3 linked regions of the Homo sapiens genome follow. The protein of the gene in region 1 purifies or fractionates together with the protein of each later gene. This does not show direct contact. Each region holds a gene or a part of one and is shown in the gene's direction. Other genes may lie near its edges.

Evidence for each region.
Region 2: the proteins of TNFRSF8 (region 1) and NAA25 purify together in Homo sapiens (affinity purification with mass spectrometry; 2 studies listed by BioGRID and IntAct, with this or other methods). This does not show direct contact.
Region 3: the proteins of TNFRSF8 (region 1) and SPATS2 purify together in Homo sapiens (affinity purification with mass spectrometry; 2 studies listed by BioGRID and IntAct, with this or other methods). This does not show direct contact.

Annotation. Positions count from the first base shown.
Region 1 is NC_000001.11:12,058,884-12,066,304, forward strand, and holds the start of TNFRSF8 (tumor necrosis factor receptor superfamily member 8 isoform 1 precursor), read left to right. Parts: upstream 1-4,419; 5' UTR 4,420-4,715; coding exon 4,716-4,778; intron 4,779-7,421. UniProt on the Homo sapiens protein: Receptor for TNFSF8/CD30L. May play a role in the regulation of cellular growth and transformation of activated lymphoblasts. Regulates gene expression through activation of NF-kappa-B.
Region 2 is NC_000012.12:112,098,778-112,105,822, reverse strand, and holds part of NAA25 (N-alpha-acetyltransferase 25, NatB auxiliary subunit), read left to right. Parts: intron 1-7,045. UniProt on the Homo sapiens protein: Non-catalytic subunit of the NatB complex which catalyzes acetylation of the N-terminal methionine residues of peptides beginning with Met-Asp, Met-Glu, Met-Asn and Met-Gln. May play a role in normal cell-cycle progression.
Region 3 is NC_000012.12:49,524,423-49,527,931, forward strand, and holds the end of SPATS2 (spermatogenesis-associated serine-rich protein 2), read left to right. Parts: intron 1-259; coding exon 260-474; intron 475-1,521; coding exon 1,522-1,833; 3' UTR 1,834-3,003; downstream 3,004-3,509.

The DNA of each region.
Region 1 (7,421 bases):
GGCAGGGAGATCTGGGGATGTGAGTTGGAGGGAGCCTGACATGGGTCCTGCCGATTAGGACTGGTGGAGGCCAAGGGTGACCCAGAGAAGCCTAATGGAGAGTCCTACTGCTACCAAGGCTCCCAAGAAAGTTGCTCAGAAAAGGTGCACCTGCGGCTGGGCGCGGTGGCTCTTGCCTGTAATCCCAGCACTTTGGGAGACCAAGGCATGCAGATCACTTGAGGTCAGGAGTTCAAGACCAGTCTGGCCAACATGGTGAAACCCTGTCTCTACTAAAAATACAAAAATCAGCTGAGTGCAGTGATGCTCGCCTGTAATCCCAGCTACTCGGGAGGCTAAGCATGAGAATCGCTTGAACCTGGGGAGGGGGAGGTTGTAGTGAGCCGAGATTGCACCACTGCTCTCCAGCCTGGGCAACAGAGTGAGACTCCATCTCAAAAAAAAAAAAAAAGAAAGAAAGAAAAGGTGCACCTGGACCTATTGAAGAAGAAAGGCCCCAGCCTCCCCTCTCTGATTTCCAGCCTCCTACCTGCCAGCTGCTGCCTGGGCCAGAAAGAACCCTTTATCTGCTAAGGGTATTTTGGGGCCATTTGGGACTCGGGTTCCCAGCTGTTGGAGGAAGTCCCTGAATTTCCTGAACCAAGTTGGGACCTTGTGTCTTGCTCAGCATCACTTTGGGGACACAGATTCCCAATTCCCCTTGGATGGCTTCCTACTGCATTCACCTTCCTCACCTTTCCTCCAAGAAGCCCACCGAGCTGAGACTGTGTGAGCAAGCGCTCCTCGCTCCCCAGTCTCCTGTAGCCCCTCGGGCTTGGCTTCCTTCCACAGCTTGCTCTGGAGGGCCCCACGACCCCACAACAAGGACTGCTGCTGTGCCTTGCACAGAGCCTAGGGACTTCCCCTTCTACTCTTCACAGCACTTTCATACCACCTGAAACCTGCCGAGGGCACCCGGGGGCTCTATCCACTGCCTGCTTTTAAGAGTCCCATGAATGGCTGTTTTCCTTGGTTGCTACCAGCCCATCTCCCCCTGGGATCCAGCTGGCTCCCTGGCCACAAAATGTGCCTTCCCTCCACTTAAGCCATGTGTCAGCTACTTTCCTGGGCGCCCTGGGGGAATTCTGGTTCTCAGGAGTACACAGTTTCCTGGGGCAGAGGGATGCATGAACCAGTCATTATGGTTATGACATGATGAGATCAGATCTAGAATTGCGGCACAAAAAATGACAGAAACCACTTTTTGACTGGGAAGAGGGCTGGGGGACAGGAGACACTGCCAGGAAAGCAACAAGGAGGAGGTGGCATTGGAACAGGTTAGGAAGATGATCAGGAGTCTGTGTGCGTCCCAGGTGGAGGCCAGCGTGGGCAAAGGCTGGCAGGGGTGAGAAGGCTGCACATTTGGCTGGAGTATAGGTCCAGGAGAAGTAAAAAGGCACAAGGGAGGAGTCAGCCCCTGCCAGGCTGTGAGCAGACTTGTGCACCCTTGCATTTGGGTGACTCTGACCCAGGGGAGCCACTGCAGGGGTTCCTTTCCTGCAGAATGGGCATAAAAGTAGGACCTTGTTCATGGGGTTTTCATGAGGATACAAGAAACCAATGCCTGAAAACTCTTAGCACAAAATAAGCACTCAAAGGTAGCTGTTATTGTTATCATTAAATGAATAATATAATTTTCTACGTGGTCCTCTGCCAAAACACACACCATACTTCCGCAAGGGTTCTCTACAGGGGAGTGTCTTGGTGAGATGTGTGTGCTAGAAAGGTCTCTTTGGAAATCCATGGAGGGAAGGATATGAGGGAGAGACAAGTTTCCACAACATCTATAGATTTATCCTTTTTAATGGATGTGCAATATTCCATTAAATGGATGTACCACAATTTCCGTAATCATTTCTTGTTGTGAATCTCAGAGTATTTCAAAAATTTATAAATAATATATAAGGAAATGTTACTGTATAGTTTTCTTTTTTCTTTTTCTAGTTTTCCAGTTAAATTATTTCCTTAGTTTTTCTTCACTGAGGTGAAATTACTGAGCCACTCACAAGTAGTACACATTTTTTTTTTTTTTTGGCTTTTGCTAAAAATTGCCATACTGCTTTCTGAAAAGGGTTGTAACATTTACCAGCAGAGTATGAATGAGTATTCTGGTCTCACCACAACTTTGGGGTTGGATTTACCAAAATTGTTTTTATAAAGCAAAAAAAAAAAAATGATGATTGTATAGATCTAAAAGGTTATCAAAGGTTGCTTGAATTTGCATTTCTTTAATTACTAAAAAGGTTAAACTTATAAAACTTGTAATTGATTTTTATTTGTATTTCTCCTTGTGCAAGCTATTTTGATGCTGTTGTTCATTTATTTATTCAAAACACCAGCCCTTCTCTCTCTCTCTTTTTTAATTAAACAAAAAATAGAGATGAGGTCTTGCTACGTTACCCGGGCTGGTCTCAAACTGGGCTCAAGTGATCCTCCAACCTCGGCCTCCCAAAGTGTTGGGATTACAGATATGAGCCATGTCACCCAGCTGCCAGCTTTTCTACTTTTGTAGTAGAAAGCTCTGGACTGGGAAGCAGGTGTCTTGCGTTCCTCCTGTCCCTGTCTGGTTCTGTCATTATCACAGGCAGGTCACTTCCATAATTGCTTACCTCATTGTTTAACATAGTCCCAGCTCAAACAGCCTAAGATACTGGGCCTGGTACATCCAGAGGAGAGTCTGGAAGTGGGTCTCTTGGGAAGGGGCATGATGGAGCAGTTTTCCCAAGTGGAGTCCAGCAGCCCCAGGAGGGTTGAGCATGGAGTGGTCAGTTGTGGAGACCTTGCTGGGAAGTTCCTGGTGGGAGGTTATCACTCCTACCCTATAGGGCCTTCACCTGATGGAGGCCTGGTACCTCGCAGGACAGATCAAGGTAGACACAGAAGCCAGAGTATCCTTAGGCTATTCTGGGCTCAGGGAAAATAACTGGCCCACCCTTAATTAGAGCACCTAGGACTGCCTGCCTATTTCTGAGCCTTGGCTTTCACATCTGAAAACCAAACAAAATCAGTCAAAAGAACCCTTGACCTGTGGCCCACCCAGCAGATGCTCAACACAGACACACGGAATGTGGAATAAAAGGAGCAAAGAGAAAACCCAGGGGATGGGGAAGCACTGGAAGGGAAAATCATTCACCAGCAAATGAGAACATAGTACGAGGAGGCTTGAATCATTTCTGTTAGGAGAGAGTGCCAGCCGCCTCCTCCAGGAAGAAAACTCTAAAGGGTCAGGCCTCAGGGAAATAAAATGATCTATACCATCCATCAGTTCCTCCAACATTCAGTCCATCCATCTACCAATCCACCCACCCATTTACCCACTCACCTGCTGCTCATCCATCCATCCATCCATCCACCTATGCATCCATCCATCCATCCATCTATGCATCCATCCATCCACCCATCCACCCACCCATTTACCCACTCACCTGCTGCTCACCCATCCATCCATCCATCCATCCATCCATCCATCCATCCATCCACTTATGCATCCATCCATCCACTTATGCATCCATCCATCCATCCATCCATCCATCCATCCATCCATCCACCTATGCATCCATCCATCCATCCATCCATCCATCCATCCATCCATCCATCCATCCACTTATGCATCCATCCATCCATCCATCCATCCATCCATCCACCTATGCATCCATCCATCCATCCATCTATGCATCCATCCATCCACCCATCCACCCACCCATTTACCCACTCACCTGCTGCTCACCCATCCATCCATCCATCCATCCATCCACTTATGCATCCATCCATCCATCCATCCATCCATCCACTTATGCATCCATCCATCCATCCATCCATCCATCCATCCATCCATCCATCCACCTATGCATCCATCCATCCATCCATCCATCCATCCATCCATCCATCCATCCACTTATGCATCCATCCATCCATCCATCCATCCATCCATCCATCCATCCATCCACCTATGCATCCATCCATCCATCCATCCATCCACCAATTTATCATCCACTCACTGATTCATTTTACAGCAAATGCTTATGAATGGGGATGGGTGGGTGATGGTTGCTTTTTCTGCAGTCTCCCTAGGCCAGTTGTCCCTTCCAAAGAATCTCAAGGGCATGGGAGAAGGTCCTGGCTGATCGTGTCAGGGACAGGAAACTACTCACATTTCACCGTTTCTTGGGGCAGGAGTGGAGGTGGGGGCATTGGAACCCCCTTGGGGCCTCCTAATATCCTGTGAGTCCCCACCTCCAGGGCCAGAAGCTGCCTGCCTCCGCTCCCCGCAGCCCAGGTGCGGCGGGCAGCACACTCCCTAGAGCCAGGACCACTAGTTCCGTCAAATCCGGGGCGGGCCATTCAAACAGCTAAGGGAGGCGTCTCCTAGTGTGCCTTTTCCTGAGTCATCTCTGCACGTGTTTGCCCCCTTTTTTCTTCGCTGCTTGTAGCTAAGTGTTCCTGGAACCAATTTGATACGGGAGAACTAAGGCTGAAACCTCGGAGGAACAACCACTTTTGAAGTGACTTCGCGGCGTGCGTTGGGTGCGGACTAGGTGGCCGCGGCGGGAGTGTGCTGGAGCCTGAAGTCCACGCGCGCGGCTGAGAACCGCCGGGACCGCACGTGGGCGCCGCGCGCTTCCCCCGCTTCCCAGGTGGGCGCCGGCCGCCAGGCCACCTCACGTCCGGCCCCGGGGATGCGCGTCCTCCTCGCCGCGCTGGGACTGCTGTTCCTGGGGGCGCTACGAGCCTTCCCACAGGTAAGCGGGTGACGGGCGCCTGGGGAGGTGCCGGCGGTCCAGAGCCCGGACAGTGTGGGGTGCGTGGGACGCAAGGGAGGACACTCCTCACCCCGTTCCCTGCCCAGCTGGAGTGAGGGGGCGCGGGTGACAAGCAGGAACACCGGAATATGCTAGCACCCACAGGTGGGAGGCTGGCTGAAGGGCTAGTGGTGGGGGGCGCCTCCTTCTCACCCCGCGATGGCTGGGACTGATTCATTCATTCAGTGTGAATTGGACTGAGAGCACTGCCATACGCGGGAGGCGCTCTTTAGCCCGCCTACCTGCGGGCCCGTCGGGGTCCTGGGCAGATCAGGTGAGGCCGTGGGAGTAGTGGGCAGGCCAGATGGGGCCTCCCTTAGCCATGGGAGGTTGGTCGTCCGCGCTCTACCCTGTTGTGTGCGCGGTCCCGTTTGCCCCCTTCCTAAGCTGGCCACTGGCTGGAGGGTCAAGGAAAGGAGGGAGAGTTGGCTGTGGGTGAGAGTGGGGTGAGGGTGCAGGACCACCGGGATTAGCTTCCCCAATCCGCGTCCGGCAAAGCAACGCTGTGGATTGAATTCGCTGGAGCACGTGGTGGGCATTTGCCCCTGGAAGAAGGTCAGTGGTGGGGCTGAAGTCTATGGTGGGTTGCCTCAGAATTGAGTTTGGGGACTGCTTTAGGAAAACTGAGCACTTACCAGTGGCCAGCGCCAAATTAATCACTGTGGGGAGAATGCAAAGTAACCAGGCGTGTTTCACGGAGCCCAGGGGCTGCTGGAGAGAGAGGCCCTCAGCTGACCCAGGACCCCGGTGGACCCCTGCATAGAACCATAGTAGGTGCGAGTGGATGCCTGCTGAATGATACAGAGGGAAAGGAAGGAGCAGGCTGTTAGTCCAGCGGTGGGTCACGGTGGGGGAGAGGGAAGACCCAGTTCCCCTTTAATCCTACAGGAAGAGAGGACTCCATGCTATGGATCAATTCTAGTCATCTGAACCTTAGGCAGTGGGAGGAGAGTGGCAGAGTGGGCTTTAGGCAGGAGGGAGGAACTATGCAGCAAAGGAGGAACTATGCCCTCTTCCATTTCCAATGGGCAATGTGAGGTATTCCCCCTTTCCCCCCAAGAGGGCAGAGGGGACAAAGCCCTGGCTAGAGACACCCTGTCCCAGCTCTGCAAGCCCTCACCTGGGGGAAGGTAAGAGTTTGGAGTGCCAAGGTCTTGGGGAGATGAAGGGAAGGAAGAGATGTGAGAGGTGCTTGGGGGGCTTTGCTGGTTTGGTTTGGCAGCTGAAGCTCATGTGCTTCCTTTCTGTAGAGTGAAGCCCCCTCCACTTTTTTTAATGTTAGAGACAGGGTCTCACTCTGTTGTCCAGGCTGGAGTGCGATCATAACTCACTACAGCCTGAACTCTCATACCAAACCTTTTTTTTTTTTTTTTTTTTTTGAGACTGAGTCTCACTCTTGTTGCCCATGCTGGAGTGCAATGCTCGATCTCGGCTCACTGCAACCTCTGCCTCCCGGATTCAAGTGATTCTCCTGCCTCAGCCTCCCAGGTAGCTGGGATTACAGGCATGTGCCACCACACCCGGCTAATTTTTGTATTTTTAGTAAAGATGAGGTTTCACCATGTTGGTCAGTCTGGTCTCGAACTCCTGACCTCAAGTGATCCTTCCGTCTCGGCCTCCCAAAGTGCTAGGGTTACAGGCATGAGCCACCACACCCAGCCTCCCATACCCTTTTTAAAATAAAAATACTATATATTTAATTGCACAAGGAATATATAAATATATTCTCAAAGCAAAACTGTAAACGCTACAGATAAAGCCAAGTCTTTTGACACCGCCTCATCCTGATCCCTTCAAAGATATAACCACCATAATTGATTTGGTGTGTTTCCTTTGCAGACCTTTATAAATGCATGTCCATATTTATATTGTTTTAATAGACATATATATAGTTTTCCATATACTATACCCTACAGTACATATGGTTCTTCATTTGGCTTTATAATGTCTATGAGGCATCTTGGTGAGCTTTCCATGCTGAAACTTACAGATCCTCTGCCTATCTTTTAAAATGCTATGTGATCTTTTGCCAAATGGGATGTTTCATAGTTTATTTATGTCCTGGATGGATGGGTGCTAAGGTTGCCACCATTGTTCTTTCTTTCTTTCTTTGTTCTCTACTACAGTGCACAGCCCTATATGGATGCTTTTGGAAATAAATGTCTGTGATTCTTTCCTAGACAAGAGACTGAGAAGAGAATACTGAGGTTGCAGGGCGAAAATGCATTCAAATTAAAAGACACCACCGAACTGCCTTCCAGGGTGGCTGGACAATTTACCCTCCCGCTAGCAGTGCAAGAGAGTAGTAACTTTCCCACATCCTAACCGACATTTGATCTTATCAGCATTTTAATTTTTCTCAATGTGATTAGTGAAAAGGGTTATATCCTTGTTGCCTTAATTTGCATTTCTCGCCTACCGGGGAAGCTGAGCATCTCTCTGGGCTCAGGCACTAGGTCATTTCTTGGCAGGAGTCAGGGAGTCCTTGGGGAAGGGACTACCTGCCCAACACAGTACTCCTTTTTGCCCCTCAAGCCTTCTCCCACTTCTGTTTTTTCCAGTAAAGGTTCGGGAAGCTCGTTA
Region 2 (7,045 bases), on another chromosome or scaffold:
CTCAAGGTTGTAGCTACCAAGTTGTAGAGCTGGGATTTGAACATAGACATTCTCACTGAGAGCTCAGCTCTTCACCAAGTTCAGATTCAGTAGCATCACTGTCTTTGTACAACAGTATTTGTACTGCCAAGGTTTCAGGATTTATTTTACAATTGTGTTGGAAACCTTGCTTGGGGCCTCAGCTCTTGCTGGAATTCATTGAGGGTATATGTGGACAGGGCTATGTGGTGATAAATTGTGGTGGGTTGAAATTTTACTGGTGGTGTCTAGGGTTGGAATAGCTTTTCTGTGTGCATAGATTTGAAACATCTTCCCAGTGCATCTCACATTACTAATAAGTTTGGGTATTGCATTTTTCGTTTTTGAAAACCTCCACCCATGACCTTACTGGAACCCATACTTGATTATTTGGTCTCCTTTTGCTAAAATTATTCTCTTTTGCTACGTAGTTCCCAGCAGATTTTGTACTCTTGTGTGACTTGGTAAGCCCCAGTGCCTTCTTTCGTTATTTTTTTGAGACAGGATCTGGCTCTGTCACCCAGGCTGGAGTGTCTTGGCTCACTGTAACCTCCACTTCCCAGGCTCAAGTCATCCATCCACCTCAGCCTCCTGAGTACTGGGACTGCAGGCGGGCACCACCACGCCTGGCTAATTTTTGTATTTTTTGTAGAGACAGCATTTCACCATGTTGTTCAGGCTGGTCTCGAACTCCTGAGCTCAAGCAATCTGCCTGCCTTGGCCTCCCAAAGTGCTGGGGTTACAGGCGTGAGCCACTGCGCCCTGCCCATTATTATTATTATTTTTTTAAGAAGGAGTCTTGCTCTGTCACCCAGGCTGGAATGCAGTGGCGCGATCTTGGCTCACTGCAACCTCTGCCTCCTGGGTTCAAACAGTTCTCTGCCTCAGCCTCCTGAGTAGCTGGGTTACAGGCATGCACCACCATGCCCGGCTAATTTTTGTTTTTGTTTTTGTTTTGTTTTTTTTTTTGAGATGGAGTCTCACTCTGTCCTGCAGGCTGGGGTGCAGTGGCGTGATCTCCGCTCACTGCAAGCTCCACCTTCCGGGTTCACGCCATTCTCCTGCCTCAGCCTCCAGAGCAGCTGGGAATACAGGCGCCCGCCACCACGCCAGGTTAATTTTTTGTATTTTTAGTAGAGACAGGATTTCACCACATTGGCCAGGTTGGTCTTGAACTTCTGATCATGTGGTCCACTTGCCTCAGCCTCCCAAAGTGCTGGGATTACAGGCGTGAGCCACTGCACCTGGCCCCATTATTCTTAATTTTAAAACATTTTCAGTGGTTATGGATTAGGGAAGGGAAGGGATGGAGGGAGATAATAAATATTTGACTCTGTTTTGTTATGCAGCCTCCTCTACCCCATACTTTTATTTATTTATTTTTCTTTCTTTTTTTTCTTTTTTGTTTTTAATTTCACGCTCATATTTTTAGATAATTGGAAGTGGAATTGATGGTCAGGTATGGCACTTAATAAATTTGTATAGAATATGGGAATTGCTAGGTCAGCAAATTGCATAATAGAAATAGAGAAAGTTCAAAGTAGAAAAAATGTGTGCATAGTCTTTAGAATATACACACATACACAGGCATGAGATCCCTTGTTTTAATATGTCGTACTGACCTGCAGTCTTGGATTAGCCTGGATCAGGTGTAAGATATTTTCCAGTGTGTCTCCCGGGTGACAGTCACTTCTTTGCTGAGTTAGGACATTTCTCTTGGGTGCCTGGCTCAGGTAATTATTCCACTATAGTTCATAGTTTAGGAGTTCCTGACCCCAGGATGGTGTGTGATACTGGTCTGTGGCCTGTTAGGAAATGGGCCGCACAGTAGGAGGTGAGCAGCAGGGTGTTGTGGGGGAGAGCATTACTGCCTGAGCCCCGCCTCCTGTCAGATCAGCTCTTAGGAGTAGGAACACAAACCCTGTTGTGAACTATGCATGTGAGGAATCGAGGTTGGCGCTCCTTATGAGACTCTAACTAATGCCTGATATCTGAGGTGGAATAGTTTTATCCCGAAACCATCCCTCCCTGCCATCTGTGGAAAAATTGTCTTTCATGAAATCGGTCCCTAGTGCCAAAAAGGTTGGGGACCACTGCTCTAGTTCATAAATGAAAACTTGCAGGTCCTCAATCAAAAGTGGTATTTATTCTGACCTCCTCTTGGACAGTGTGGTAGCTTTGTGAGTCTGGTCCTATTTTGCCTCAGAAGTGACAGGGTACCTTGGTGAGTGAAGACTATCTTGCGTTTCTGTAGAAAAGTCACTTGGCACAACCTATTTTTTTCCATTCTGAAAATATGACCATTTAAAAAGCCCTGACTTACTAGAACTTCTCTCAATGAATCTAGAACTTCCATCACCATTGGATGGCTGAGACCACCTCTGCCATACCAAAACCTTGCTCATAACCAAAACAGTCCCTGTTGGTCTTTTGCCCTGGACCTGTGACATTCTGGACTATTTTTGTGTTCAGTTTTGGCCAAGTGTTAACAAGCATACAAAGCTGGGCACAGTGGTTTGGCTGGGTGAGGTGGCTCATGCTTGTAATCCCAGCACTTTGGGAGGCCGAGGTGGGTGGGTTGCTTGAGGCCAGGAGTTCGAGACTAGCCTGGCCAAAATGGCAAAACCCCATCTCTACTAAAAATACAAAAATTAGCCAGGTGTGGTGGCAGGCGCCTGTAACCCCAGCTACTCAGGAGGCTGAGGCAGAAGAATCACTTGAACCCGGGAGGCGGAGGCTGCAGTGAGCTGAGATTGTGCTACTGTACTCCAGCCTGGGGGACAGAGCGAGACTTCATCTCAAAAAAATAAAAAATAGGGCTGAGTGCAGTGGCTCACGCCTGTAATCCTAACACTTTGGGAAGCCGAGGCCGGCGGATCATGAGGTCAAGAGTTTGAGACGAGTCTCACCGACATAGTGAAACTCCGTCTCTACTAAAAATATACGAAAAATTAGCCGGGTGTGGTAGTGTGCATCTGTAATCCCAGCTATTCAGAAGGCTGAGGCAAGAGAATCGCGTGAACCCAGGAGGCGGAGGTTGCAGTGAGCCGAGATCGCGCTATTGCACTCCAGCCTGGGCTCCAGTGCGAGACTCCATTGCGGGGGGCGGGGGGGCAGCTAGTGTGATGGTGCATGCTTGAACCCAGGAACTTCAAGCTGCAGTGAGCTGAGATTGTGCCACTGTACTCCAGCCTGGGCAACAGAGCAAGATTCTATGTCAAAACAAATAAACAAAAAACTATTCTGCTGTCTTAGCTGAATAATTCAAACAAACAACAACAACAAAAAACCCTGACCTAGACTTTTAAACTGAAAATGAAGGTTTTAGTGCACAAAAATATTCTTAGATGAATACATAGATTAGAGGGTAGTTGTTGAAACATAGGGCAAGATGAAGAGATTAGTACATTTCTTTTTTTTTTTCTGTTTTTGGAGACAAGGTCTTGCTGTGTTGTCCAGGCTGCAGTGCAGTGATGTGAACATGGCTCACTGCAGCTTCGACCTCCTGAGCTCAAGTGATCCTCCCGCCTCAGCCTCTGGAGTAGCTGGCACTGCAGGCACATGCCACCATGCCTGGCTAGTTTTTTAAATTTTTATTTTATTTTATTTTTTTGAGATGGAGTTTCACTCTTGTCGCCCAGGCTGGAGTGCAATGGTGCGATCTCAGCTTGCTGCAACCTCCGCCTCCTGGGTGGATCACTTGAGTCCAGGAGTTTCAGACCAGCCTGGCCAACGTGGTGAAAACCCATCTCTACTAAAAATACAAAAAAATTAGCTGGGCATGGTGATGCACGCCTGTAATCCTAGCTACTCGGGAGGCTGAGGCAGGAGAATAGCTTGAACCCAGGAGGTGGAGGATGCAGTGAGCCGGGATTGCACCACTGTACTGCAGCCTGGGTGACAAAGCTAGACTCTGTCTCAAAAAAAAAAAAAAAAGTTGAAAAGATTTGGAAAAAATTTAATAGCTGGTAGCCATCACTAATCACTGGTTCTTTGAACTTCCTGTTGTGATCACTTTGTATTATCTTTTTTTTTTGATAGATTTTTTAAGATGCAGTCTCACTCTGTCACCTGGGCTGGAGTGCAATGGCGTGATCTCCACTCGCTGCAACCTCCGCCTCCTGGATTCAAGTGATTCTCCTGCCTCAGCCTCCCAAGTAGCTGGGATTACAAGCACCTGCCACCACACCTGGCTAATTTTTGTATTGTTAGTAGAGATGGGATTTCACCATGTTGGTCAGGCAGGTCTTGAACTCCTGACCTCAAGCAATCCACCTTCCTCGGCCTCCCAAACTGTTGGGATTACAGGCATGAGCCACCGCACCCGGCCTGTATTATCTTATATATATATCTTTCATTTTTCTAGCAGACTGCCCTTTTTTCCCCCATACAATTTGTTCATTTATGCATTCCTTCATTCAACATTTATTGAGGGCCTGATATGTGTTAGGCACAATATAGATGCAGGAAATGAGTACTAAACAGCACAGACATAGTTTCTGCTTTCAAGGAGCTTATCTCCTTGAAATGACAGTACACATCACCATTACAGTTATGTTAAGGGATTTGAAGGAATAGGACAGTTTGCCATGAGAGCATACAATAGGGGCATTTGGACTGTTGGGGTCAGGTCAAGAAAAGGTTTCCTGTGGAAATGATGTTTTACTTTGGACATGAAAAGAGAACCAGGGTTAGGCAAAGAGATGGGGAGAGGGTGGTGAAGACCCTGAGAAAAGGAGCTTGGTCCACTTGAGGATGTAAGCAAAGGCTTGTGCAGTTGGAATGAAGAAATGAGTGAGGAAGTGAGATGAGGCTGGGGTGGGCAGCGACTCAGCTTTGTAATCCATTTTAAGGATATTGAAATTTGTTTTAAAGACAGTGGAATCAGGCCGGGTGTGGTGGCTCACGCCTGTAATCCCAGCACTTTGGGAGGCCAAGGCAGGTGGATGACGAGGTCAGGAGATCGAGACTATCCTGGTAACACGGTGAAACCCCGTCTCCACTAAAAATACAAAAAATTCTCCGGGCGTGATGGCGGGCGCCTGTAGTCCCAGCTACTCCGGAGGCTGAGGTAGGAGAATGGCGTGAGCCCGGGAGGCGGAGCATGCAGCGAGCCAAGATCGAGCCACTGCACTCCAGCCTGGGCAACAGAGCAAGACTCCATCTCAAAAAAAAAAAAAAAAAAAAAAAGACAATGGAATCAATACCTGTGAAAAGAAAGAAAAGGACAGTGGATGACATTAAAAGGATTTAACCAGAGGAGTAGAGTGATAAGGTGTGCATGTAAAAAAGATAGCTCTGAATACTGTGTGGGAAATAAACCTTTAAACTAAAAGGGAAGCAAGGCCAGGTGTGGTGGCTCACGCCTGTAATCCCAGCACTTTGGGAGGCTGAGGCAGGAGGATCACGAGGTCAGGAGATCGAGACCATCCTGGCCAACATGGTGAAACCCTGTCTCTACTAAAATACAAAAAAATTAGCCAGGCCTGGTGGTACGAGCCTGTAGTCCCAGCTGCTCAGGAGGCTGAGGCAGGAGAATCACTTGAACCTGGGAGGCAGAGGTTGCAGTGAGCCGAGATCGTGCCACTGCACTCCAGCCTGGTGACAGAGCAAGACTCTGTCATAAATAAATAGGAGGCAAATGTAGAATGGGTCGGTCAGTTAGGAGGCATTATTCATTTTTAGGTTCATCCTTGTCCCTTGCAATCTTGCACATGGTAGGTATTTAACAAAGGCTTGCTGAGTGAAGGAATGTGTCTTCTGTAATTTGTATTCATGGTAAAAGCAAGGCTCCTATTCTCCAACTTTTAGAATTTTTAAGTAAAGGATATTGTGTTTAAAGATGGAGCTCTCTTCTATTTAGCGTTTTTATAAGTTGTGGCAATATCTTTAATAGTCTCTGAAATTCTTGTAGGAAGTGGAAACTGAGCATACTATTTCAGCTGCTAAGGAGACCATTCATGGCAGCTGCAAGAACATGCAGATGAAAAACTTTCCTTTTTATTTGCAAAATTGATACTTTTCCTACTGTCAGTATCCATCCCTCAGTAAGATTGGATGAACAAATCCCAGGACCTCTTCTCCAGGGCATGTGGACAGCAGGCCTGCATGTGTCCAGGCCTGCTGCTGCCTGCATCTCCAAGGACTAGTAGCTTCTTTGGGAAGTGTTACCTCAGGAGTGCAGCTTGTGCGTTCATTCAACAAATTTTGATAGTGTCTTGCCAATGATTTATCCCAGTTCTTCCCAAATTTCTATCGTTCTTTTACCTAATCTCATTATTTTAGCTGCATTATAGTATTATCTGTGCTATCAGTTAATATTTTTCTCCAAGGTGACTTTTAAAATTAAATTTATTTTATAATTATATTATTGCTATGAGTGGAAAACTTGTATCACTTGCTGTAGGAAAATAAAACTGTAAAAGTAAAGTACAATGAAAACTAAACAATGTTATTAACCAGATTCTGATACTTGTGAAACTTCAGGACCTATTCCTTCCTTCTGGAAAAAAAAAAAGGCCGAGTGCGACAGCTCATGCCTATAATCCCAGCACTTTGGGAGACCGAGGCAGACGGATCACGAGGTCAAGAGATTGAGACCATCCTGGCCAACATGGTGAAACCCCGTCTCTACTAAAAGTACAAAAAAAATTAGCTGGGTGTGGTGGTGCGCACCTGTAGTCCCAGCTACTCAGGAGGCTGAGGCAGGAGAATTGCTTTAATCTAGGAGGTGGAGGTTGCAGTGAATCGAGATCATGCCACTGCACTCCAGCCTGGCGACAGAGTGAGACTCTGTCTCCAAAAAAAAAAAAAGATACTAGCAATTTTTAGAGAAATAGTAGGCTAGCACCAAACTGACACTTTCTCCTTAATGTAAAGGAAGTATTAGAAAAGAGATTAGGGCCAGGCGTGGTGGCTCACGCCTGTAATCTTAGCACAATCCCAGTTGAACCTTGGAGGCGGAGGTTGCAGTGAGCTGGGATCGCGCAACTGCACTCTAGCCTGGGCAACAGAGCGAGTCTCAAAA
Region 3 (3,509 bases), on another chromosome or scaffold:
TTGGTGGGGAATGGGTAACTTTGATTTTAACTGTTCTCTTGTCTAAGAATTCCTTTACAAAGCAGTGGGGCTTTGGAGGAAGTGGAGGAAGAGGGCAGAAGGGAGATTTTTCTTCCTGTTACCAGTTTTATAGGTTTTTCTTTATTCGAATAGACAGTTCTTTATCTTAAATTGCTCATTGTGAAATTGAGAAAGTAGAAACCTTATCCATTGTGCTGTTCTATCATATGATCATATATTCCTCATATTTCTGTTTCAGTGTCTCATCCAAAGAACAGCTATTCGACCAGATCCCGATGTAGCTCAGTTACATCTGTGTCCTTGAGTAGCCCAAGTGATGCCTCTGCTGCTTCCTCTTCCACCTGTGCCTCTCCTCCCAGCCTTACAAGTGCTAACAAGAAAAACTTTGCACCGGGAGAGACTCCTGCAGCCATAGCAAACTCCAGTGGCCAGCCCTACCAGCCACTTCGGGAGGTAACCTAGCTTCTACACTGAGCATGTTAGGAAGAAAACCCTCCAGATTGTCAAAGCTTAAATGCTGTTAGCTCAGTATATTATCTTCCTCTCTATTCCCATTCCATGCCTGTTTTGAATCCCTCCAACCCAAGTTAGTTCCTGAGAAAGCATTAGATACGTATGTTCCAAACTGCCAGCCAGTTTAGATTTCCTGTTGCCAAGAACTGCTGACTTTCTTGTGTTGGCAGTGATCCCTGCTGTTGTAGATAGTATTGCCTGGTAATTAGTCACACTGGGAGTCGTGCACCCATCTCAAGGTAGACAGGCACCACAAGTGGCAGTTTTACCAGTGTGCATCTGAAAGCAGCAGCTCCCTAGAAGCACAATGTGGAATTTACAGGGAAAGAGAGAGTGAACTGGTGGGGATGGGGGGAAAACACTAGAAAGCTGAGGAGTAATCCATAGGTTCTTCTCCTGTTTGAAGAATAAACACAAGAGCAATCCAAGGCAGTACTGTCAGTAATTCTTCAGAACTGGTATGATGTTTGGAATTGGAGGACAAAAATAAAATCCCATACCGTAAGCTTTCCGGATTATAATGCGAAAGATGTGCTGAATGCCACAGCAGCATACTTTAATCTGTAGTTCATGACATTTAGCAAAGCAGGCCATAGTGATGTTTACTTTATTATTCCAAATGTGTATTATCTTTACCAATGGCCTTTTATCTGCAGAGTTCAGACATAATATAATATACTTGTCCAATCGAGGGCTTGTAACAACCCAGAGAATGTTCTTTCTTCCTTATCTTTCTTCTTGCATCCAGCTAAAGAAAAGTAAATTCTTCAGTGGAGAAGAGCCTGGGCATGAAGAGCAGGGAAAGATGGATTAGTTCTGAAGTAGTGGCTAGGTTGGATTGGCTGAGAGAATTCTTTGAGTCTTGAGAGATAACTGAGTCCCAAGCATGGGATACCACAATTCTGCTTTCAGAATACTCCTGTAAAGTGAACGAATGGGGTACCATAATGCTAGAGCACCTTGAACATTGTATTCTTTCATCTTTAGGTATTGCCAGGGAACAGACGAGGAGGACAGGGCTATAGGCCACAAGGCCAAAAGTCCAATGACCCCATGAACCAAGGGCGGCATGACAGTATGGGTCGTTACAGAAACAGCTCGTGGTATTCATCTGGTTCCAGGTATCAGAGTGCTCCATCTCAGGCACCAGGAAACACCATTGAAAGAGGCCAGACTCACTCTGCAGGGACCAATGGAACTGGAGTCAGCATGGAGCCCAGCCCTCCCACGCCTTCATTCAAAAAGGGGCTCCCCCAGCGCAAACCCAGGACCTCTCAGACTGAAGCCGTGAACTCTTGAGAGAAAATCCAGTTGGCCTCTCTCCTCTATCCACACAATTCAACTTGATAACTGGACTTTAGGAAACTTACAGTTAGATGTAATAACAAAAAGAAGTTTATGCGTATCACTTTTTGTGCCATTCTAAGTATTTTTGGTTTCTTGTCTCCTTATTTCCTCTTTACCATTTTTGGAGGGGAAGCTATTTTTTTTCCTTGATCTTTCCCAGTGATATGGATTGAATCTGGTTGGTCATTTCCACCAGGAATCAGAGGCAGCTGTTACCAGGTTTCGGCCTTCCAGTTGATCCCTCCACTGTCCAGGCTGTCTCAGGAGGAGGTGAATCAGAGCTAGTCTGTCACCTTTCCAATCTAAGCCGAAGCCACAGGTGCCTGACAGGTTCCCTTCTAACAACTATTTGACCAAGAGAGGCAATCAGGGGGTTGTATACTGCACTGGATTCGCCAGAGAAGGGAAAATTTAATTAGTGAAAAGGAAAGAACACTAGGAAACATTTGAGAACCTGCCTCTATCCCAGAATGTGCTGGAGATTTGACACTCAAATCAGTGTTTAGTCTTCTGCTTGGCACCATAGCTTAACCTGCAGTTTCTTCAAAATGCCCAATGCCTTGTTTCCTATTACCTTAGATTGCAAACCAGTCTAGGGAAGTCTATGAGAAAGTAGCATTTAATTAAAGTTTAAAAAAAAAAAGGTTGGGCGTTGTGGCTCATGCCTGTAATCCCAGCACTTTGGGAGGCTGAGGCGGGTGGATCACTAGGTCAGGAGTTCAAGACCAGCCTGGCCAACATGGTGAAACCCTGTCTGTACTAAAAATACAAAAATTAGCTGAGCATGGTGGCGTGTGCCTGTAATCTCAGCTACTCAGGAGGCTGAGGCAGGAGAATCGCTTGAACCCAGGAGGCGGAGGCTGCAGTGAGCTGAGATTGTGCCACTGCACTCCAGCCTGGGAGACAGAGCAAGACTCAGTCTCAAAAAAAAAAAAAAAAGCATTTTTCTGTTTTAATGTTTGGAGACTTTTTTTTTTGTTCTCTCCCTTTCCTGAACCCTATTCTGATCCTGAACCAAATTTATAGCAATATAATTAGTGTTAATCTAAGGCATTACTCATCAAAAAAATTGCTGCAGTCTTTACAGTTGAATAAATAAAAACAACTGCATAAATATGCCCACTTTTGTTTCATAGCAGCAAGTGGTTTCATTTCATTATGTTTTTCTTTGGGCCTCATGGGGGTAGAAGTCACTCAGACAGCTTGTTCCAGGATTAAATGAGGGTATCTGATTCCCAAGTCATTTGTCTGCCACCACTGCGTAGCTTCAGAACCAAATTAAAATATGAAAGCCAGGAAGAGCAAATGCAGTTGTTCCTAGTGAGAAAGGATCATAGGATAGGGAATGGTGACTTTCCAAAGGAGAACTTAACCACTTTAAGAAAACCACAGCTCTCCAGGCTCTCCCAGGTAACCAAAGTTTATAATGGCACTGCTCTCCCCAACTCCCTGTCCCTTGACTGAGTATTGAACGTAACCGTATAATTGAGCTCCTGCGTGTAGCAGGTGGCATGGGTGCCAGACCCTTCCACCCCACACTCACCCCCAGCATCTGTGATTTAATCACAGCAGAGCTTTTCTTTCTCTGGCATGTGTTCTCCCAAGTCTGAAGCCCAGACTGTAAGTGG